Regions from separate parts of the Homo sapiens genome. Here region 2 is linked to region 1. The links come from fine-mapping of genetic effects on gene expression. A gene starts in region 1. The other region holds a variant in brackets. All regions are shown on one strand. Distances are between the middles of the regions.

Evidence for each region. PIP is the estimated chance that this variant, and not a neighbour inherited with it, causes the effect.
Region 2: its variant is the best candidate, but not a certain one, in a credible set for the expression of ORAI3 in whole blood (TOPMed, PIP 0.70).

What each region holds. Positions count from the first base shown.
Region 1 is chr16:30,947,752-30,950,652 of GRCh38, forward strand. ORAI3 (ORAI calcium release-activated calcium modulator 3) reads left to right here and starts at 1,317. Exons shown (of 2, transcript NM_152288.3): 1 at 1,317-1,766. The coding sequence starts at 1,539. FBXL19 (F-box and leucine rich repeat protein 19) reads left to right here. Exons shown (of 11, transcript NM_001382779.1): 11 at 1-1,032. RefSeq lists silencers at 743-992, 1,363-1,622, 1,663-1,712 and enhancers at 1,636-2,154, 2,443-2,672, 2,673-2,901.
Region 2 is chr16:30,989,965-30,992,865 of GRCh38, forward strand. It overlaps STX1B (syntaxin 1B), which reads right to left. Exons shown (of 10, transcript NM_052874.5): 10 at 1-2,901. The coding sequence ends at 2,857. Among named protein-coding and RNA genes, the nearest start is that of HSD3B7, 6.2 kb to the left of the region's middle. RefSeq lists enhancers at 76-719, 720-1,363. The variant A/G (reference allele first, on the strand shown) is at 1,379.

The sequences.
Region 1 (2,901 bases):
GGGCAAGCTGGGGCTGAGCTGGAGGTGGGGATGAGAGCAGGTGTGGGGACAGCAATACCCCCTTGGGGGTCACCTCTCTGCTTCCCCCCTCCCCAGGCTTCAGTTCCTTCCCCCTGACCCTGACTCCTTGAACGTCACTGAAAACGGCAGCTATTGCAAGGAGTGGGGGCCGCGGGCAGCCGCTCTTCAGCTCGCGGCCCAGGGGAGTGGCGAGGGGCGCCCCAACCCCCTGCCCGCCTCTCCGCACAATACTTGAACATTCATCTGTACTGAAGTGTTACTTGAACCGGGGGAATCTCGGACCTGGGGGAGCCGGGGTGTGAGGGGACTGGACCAGCTTGGACTGAGACCTGAGACCGGGCCGGTGGGCGCCCATTTGGGACTGCGCCACCCCCAGGCTTGTTCTTGTTTTACTGTATTGAGCGGCGGCACCCGCCGGACCCGCATTATGGCTGGGGGCGCCAGCCCAAGAATGGGGACCATGGGACTCCTCCAGCCTGGCTCTTCCCACTCTTTCATCGTCATGGAAACTTGTATCCCATTTGCCCAGGGAACTGCCACTCCTGGTTGCCATGGAAATAGCAGCCAACGGACACCTCCCGATGCCAGTGCTAAGGCTGGAAATGGCCCCCTCTTAGTTGCCATGGGAACCTAGTAACAGACTCTGCTGGCCCTCCTTCCCTGCCCCTTCCTCGAGCGCGGGGTGGGGCTTCGGGACCCCGGGGATGAGCCGGGCCAGGTCCCGCCCCTCCGCGCAGGCCTCCGGGGGGCCGGGGCTTACCATGTAGGGGAGGGGAGATCTATCCACATACCTCAGGTAACAGGGAGGTGCGCGGGTGGGGGGAGGGCTGGGCGGACCAAAGGCCGGAGGGGTGGGGCCTGGGGATAGCGAGAGGCTTGAGAATGGGGCCGCTTGGGGGAGGGAAGAGGCAGCCCGGCGAGGGGCAAGCGGGGGACCCAGCCGGGCTGGGCCCCTGGGCCCCGGGTCTGTACAATACGGTTTGCTATAAAACTCAAAATCTTCCAGCCGGGGCTGCGGAGTTCGTGTGTGTATCTGCGGGGTCCCTACCTACAGATGAGTGGGCTCACCTCTCCTGGACTCATTTTGGGAGGGATTTGGAAGTGTGGACACCTGGGGTGTCCAGCTGTACCTTGGAGGGGGCTGGGGTTGGCGTGCACCTCGGTGGGGTCCGGGCGCTTGGATAACGTTCTTGGTGGGTAGGGGTCGCGGGGAATCTCTGCGGGCCCGGGACTGCGGGGACTTGGTCCCCGGCTCCACCCCATCATGTGGCTAGCCCCGGCTCCGCCTCTGTCCCAGTTCCTGTTTTGGCCTCCGCTGTCCCGCTCCGGCTCCTGGGGCTCCCCGCAGACGCTGCTTTTCTTGCTCCACTGGGGGTGCCTCTTCCTGGGCGCCCGCCGCCTGCATCCTGCTCGTCCTGTCTGGGAATGGGGCCGCCCCCGGGCTTGGGCCGGCCCGGCTGGGGCCCCCGAGGCGCTTCCGCCCCGTAGTGACCGCCTGGTGCCGCCCCCCCCCCAGGATGAAGGGCGGCGAGGGGGACGCGGGCGAGCAGGCCCCGCTGAACCCTGAGGGCGAGAGCCCTGCAGGCTCGGCCACGTACCGGGAGTTCGTGCACCGCGGCTACCTGGACCTCATGGGGGCCAGTCAGCACTCGCTGCGGGCGCTCAGCTGGCGCCGCCTCTACCTCAGCCGGGCCAAGCTCAAAGCTTCCAGCCGCACGTCTGCCTTGCTCTCGGGCTTCGCCATGGTGAGGGGCCGGGAGGGGTCACACCCGGTGGGGCAGAGCAAGTGGGGGGCACAGGTCGGGGGGGGGGCGAAGTAAACAGGTCCCAAGGGAGACAGGTTAAAGGGGGCTTTCGTCAAAGGGGGAAGGAACAAGGTCCCGCGGGACTGAGCAAGTCCCTTCTTACGGATGTGTGTGTACAGGGGACCCCAGGAGACGGGGCCACCGGAGGACACGAAAGTCCTAAAGGTGTCGTAGTGGGAGTGGGGTGAACAAATCGCTGGTGGGGTTGACTGCAACAGTGAGGCAGAGTGGTCCAGATGGAGCCTGTACCTGGCAGAAGTGGTTCCTAAGTCCCAGTGCCAGCTTCAAAGGCAGGTCAGCTGGGTGGGGGCTGCATCAACAGGTGGGGGGCTCGAGATGGATTAGCTGGGTGGAAGGGTCACCCAGCTGAAGGTGGGCCCGTCCCAGGGAAGGTGGCCACTCTCCAGCGGGCCCAAGGGGTGCTAGTGTCAACCAGGAAAACTGACAAGAGATCATGCCCGGGAGGGAACCGCTGGGGAAGGAGGCTGATGAGGAAACTGATAAGCGAGTCTCAAGCTGATAAACCCCAGGTGCAGGAGGACGGTGTTGGCTAACGGTCTGCCCCAGCAGTGGCCTCACAGGAAGTGGGATGGAGGGAGGTCCCAGGGTGAGGATCAGCAGACACAGTCCTGGCTCCTCCCTGCTTGTGGCCAGCTGTGTGACCCTGGACAGGCCTCCACCCCGCTTGCAAGCCAGTGGGAAACTGAGATCATGGAGGGTGCGCCCTCTGTAGCCAGCCAAGTAACCGCCCCAGGGTGAGCCAGGCATGTCAGAGCAGGTCACGTACCAAGGATGGCTCAGACTAGCCTGCTAATTGGACAGGTGTGGAAAGTAAAAGCCTTGCCTCTGGGCAGGAGCGAATGAACTGGGACCCAGGGTTGCTGCTCTGTTAGTCTGGGGTTGCCCCACCATCACCCCAGGAAAAAGGAGAAAGTGAGCTGCAGGAGGTACTTTGGGGAACGCACTCCTGTGGGGGTGGATATCAGAGGCGGTTGGGGTGGGGACCATGGCGCTAGGGGATCTGGGCTAGTCCCTGCCCTGTCTGTGCCACAACCTCCATATTTGAACAATGACA
Region 2 (2,901 bases), 42 kb after region 1:
AAGACACCAGCCTCCAGACAACATGCCAGGACGCACACAGACAGCAGCCAACAAGCAGGCACATCATAGGATGTGGAGGACGCATAGAAAGGGCACAGCAGACCCTTAGAGATCCCCTGGTCCACCTGAGGCCCAGAGATGGGCAGCTGTGGGCCCAATGCCACTCCAGGTGGGGGGAGTGGTGCCCCAGCCACGCTTCAACCCTTCTCCTGTGGCCCCAAGGCCGTGGGACTTCCGGAAACACCTGGGCTGAATGGGGGTCCTGTCCAGGCGGCCGGAAGAGGGGACTGGGGGCTGGGGCCTGCTCTGATGTCTCCCAAGCAGCCCGAGATGGGAGCAGGAGGGCCGTGGCCAGACTTGGGGCAGACTTCCTGTCCTGCAGAGGGGCGTTCTGGGAAGGGACAGGCAGGCCCCCAGCTCAGGACAGCCCACCTGGGGTTACGCACGTGGCCACACTGACACACACACAGGACAAGGGAGAGCTCGGCTGTCTGAGCTCGGGTAGAGGTGGAGGGGTACTGTGTTCTGGGAGGTCACATCTGTTTGGCCACATGCACACACAATGCACACACAATGTACACACACATACAATGCACACACACGTACGCTTCACATGACCTGGGACCCTGGGGTCCGCACACACACACCGAGTGCCTTGCCTGTGCACACATAAGCCCCATGCCAGGGCATGGCACATTTGTGTACTTGTGTGTTCACCTTTCATGATCCTAGACCACGGAGTGGGGACCTCTAACACTGTCCTTTCTCCCACGCACCACCTACCTGCCACCAAACCCACAAATTGTGCCTGTGCTGGCTACACAACAGGGGAGGTGCTAGCCCCTTCCTCACACCAGAAATCCAGGCCTGTGTACCCCTCAGTCACACCCTGGTGTGGGGAGCAGCCTGAGGGTTCAGCAGGAGAGGTGTCGGGGATGGGTCTCAGGACCCAGCCCACCCTGAGTGGCCACTGCCACACTGGCCACTCCAGTACTTCTGAAATAGACATTTCCCCAAACCCGAGTTCCCTGAGGCAGAGCCCAGAGCATCCGATGGGGCAGTGGGGGACACACAGTCCTCTCCCAGGTCTGAGGTGGGTGTGTGAGGAAGGGGTCGTGTCCTGATCTTTGATCCCTGCAGGGAAGTCCTTGGCATCTTGCCTCATCAGTAACATTCCTACAAGTAGCCCTTTCCTTCCAGGAGGCATTCGTGTGATCCCCGCACCCATGCCAGCGTGCATGGTTTGTGCCTGGTATGGCCCCTGCCTGGGGCCACCTCGGCCTTGCCACGTGTGAGCACACTGAGGGGTACCAGCTTCCAGGGGCTCGGGGCTATGCTGGGCAGAGACATGGAGGAAGATGAGGATCTAGGTGTGAGC[A/G]TGCAGAGCCCTGAGGCTGGGCAGGCAGGGAGCTCTGCCTGCACAATGATGTAGCCGTGTGTGGCCACACCAGCACTGGGCAGCACCTCTGGGGAGGGGGGCAGGGCAAGGACAACTGGAGAGACAAAGCCAGATGGGGCCACGTCCTTAGAAGTGTGTGTGCACGCACGTGTGTGTGTGTGTGTGTAATACGCAGGGCAGAAACACACCATGTAGGTCAGGCAGGACAGAAACACATCATGTAGGCCAGGCGTGGTGGCTCAGGCCTGTAATGCCAGCACTTAGGGAGGCCAAAGTGGGCGGATCACCTGAGGTCAGGAGTTCGAGACCAGCCTGGCCAACATGTCAAAACCTCATCTCTACTAAAATTCTAAAATTAGCCAGGCGTGGTGGCAGGCGCCTGTAGTCCCAGCTACTTGGGAGGCTGAGGCATGAGAATCGCTTGCGTCAGGGAGGCACAGGTTGCAGTGAGCTGAGATTGCGCCACTGCACTCCAGCCTGGGTGACAGAGCAAGACTCCGTCTCGAAAAAAACAAAAAACAAAAAACAAAAAAAAATTAAAAAGCACACCATGTAGAGAGCCCCTAACACACACACACACGTGCATACACACGCACGCCACACACACACAGCTGCATTCTAGGTAGCAAGAAATACACATTTCTGTGCCCTCCCAAAACAGGTGTCCAGTCCACAGTGTGGAGGGCTCTATCTGAGAAGACCTATCAATACTTCAGGCACATCCTGGACACACACACACACACACACACACACATGCACACCCTCCTGGGACATGCCACAGCCCCTGGGGTAACAAAGACATGGGGTGTCTGCCATGGCCTGTGTGTACCTGGGCCTCCCTGGATCCTCTGAGAATGTGAGTGTGAGTCCACACACACCACCTGCCTGGTTTGTAGCAGACACAAAGGGCTCAGGTATCAGTGGCTTTGTTGCTGTTGCATTAGGTTCAAACACTGAAACACAAAATTCCACGTACACAAATGGTGTGTCCACAGATCTGTGGTCTCACGCACGCACACACACTGTTCACAGAGGACAGAGAGGGCGTGATGGACTGCTGTGTTACACTTGGCTGCAGTCTACACAACAGCCCCGGTGAAGGGGGAAGCTCAGACCACGCACACACACCCAAGGTGGGGGTGGAGGGGGTGCTCTGGTGCATCACACACATCACACGCACACGCACGCTGGGGTGTCCACACGTCTCGAGCATGTGCCGGCGGCATGCATGTTGGTGTGCATGTGTAATCACGCCTGCTGCGATCTACGTGCGGGGACGGGGGGGGGGTCCATGGCCCGGTGAGGTCCAGGGACACCAGGGTCTGCCGTGGGGGTGGGGCTGCCTGGGTCTGTTTTGGGAGTGAGCCTGGAGCAGGGGATGGAGTGAAAGGGGTGGTGGGGGTATTGCTCCCGATGTGGTGGGGGAAGGGTCTGGGAGAGAGAAGGGTGGGGGGGGCCTACAAGCCCAGCGTCCCCCCAATGGATGACGCCAAGACCACCCC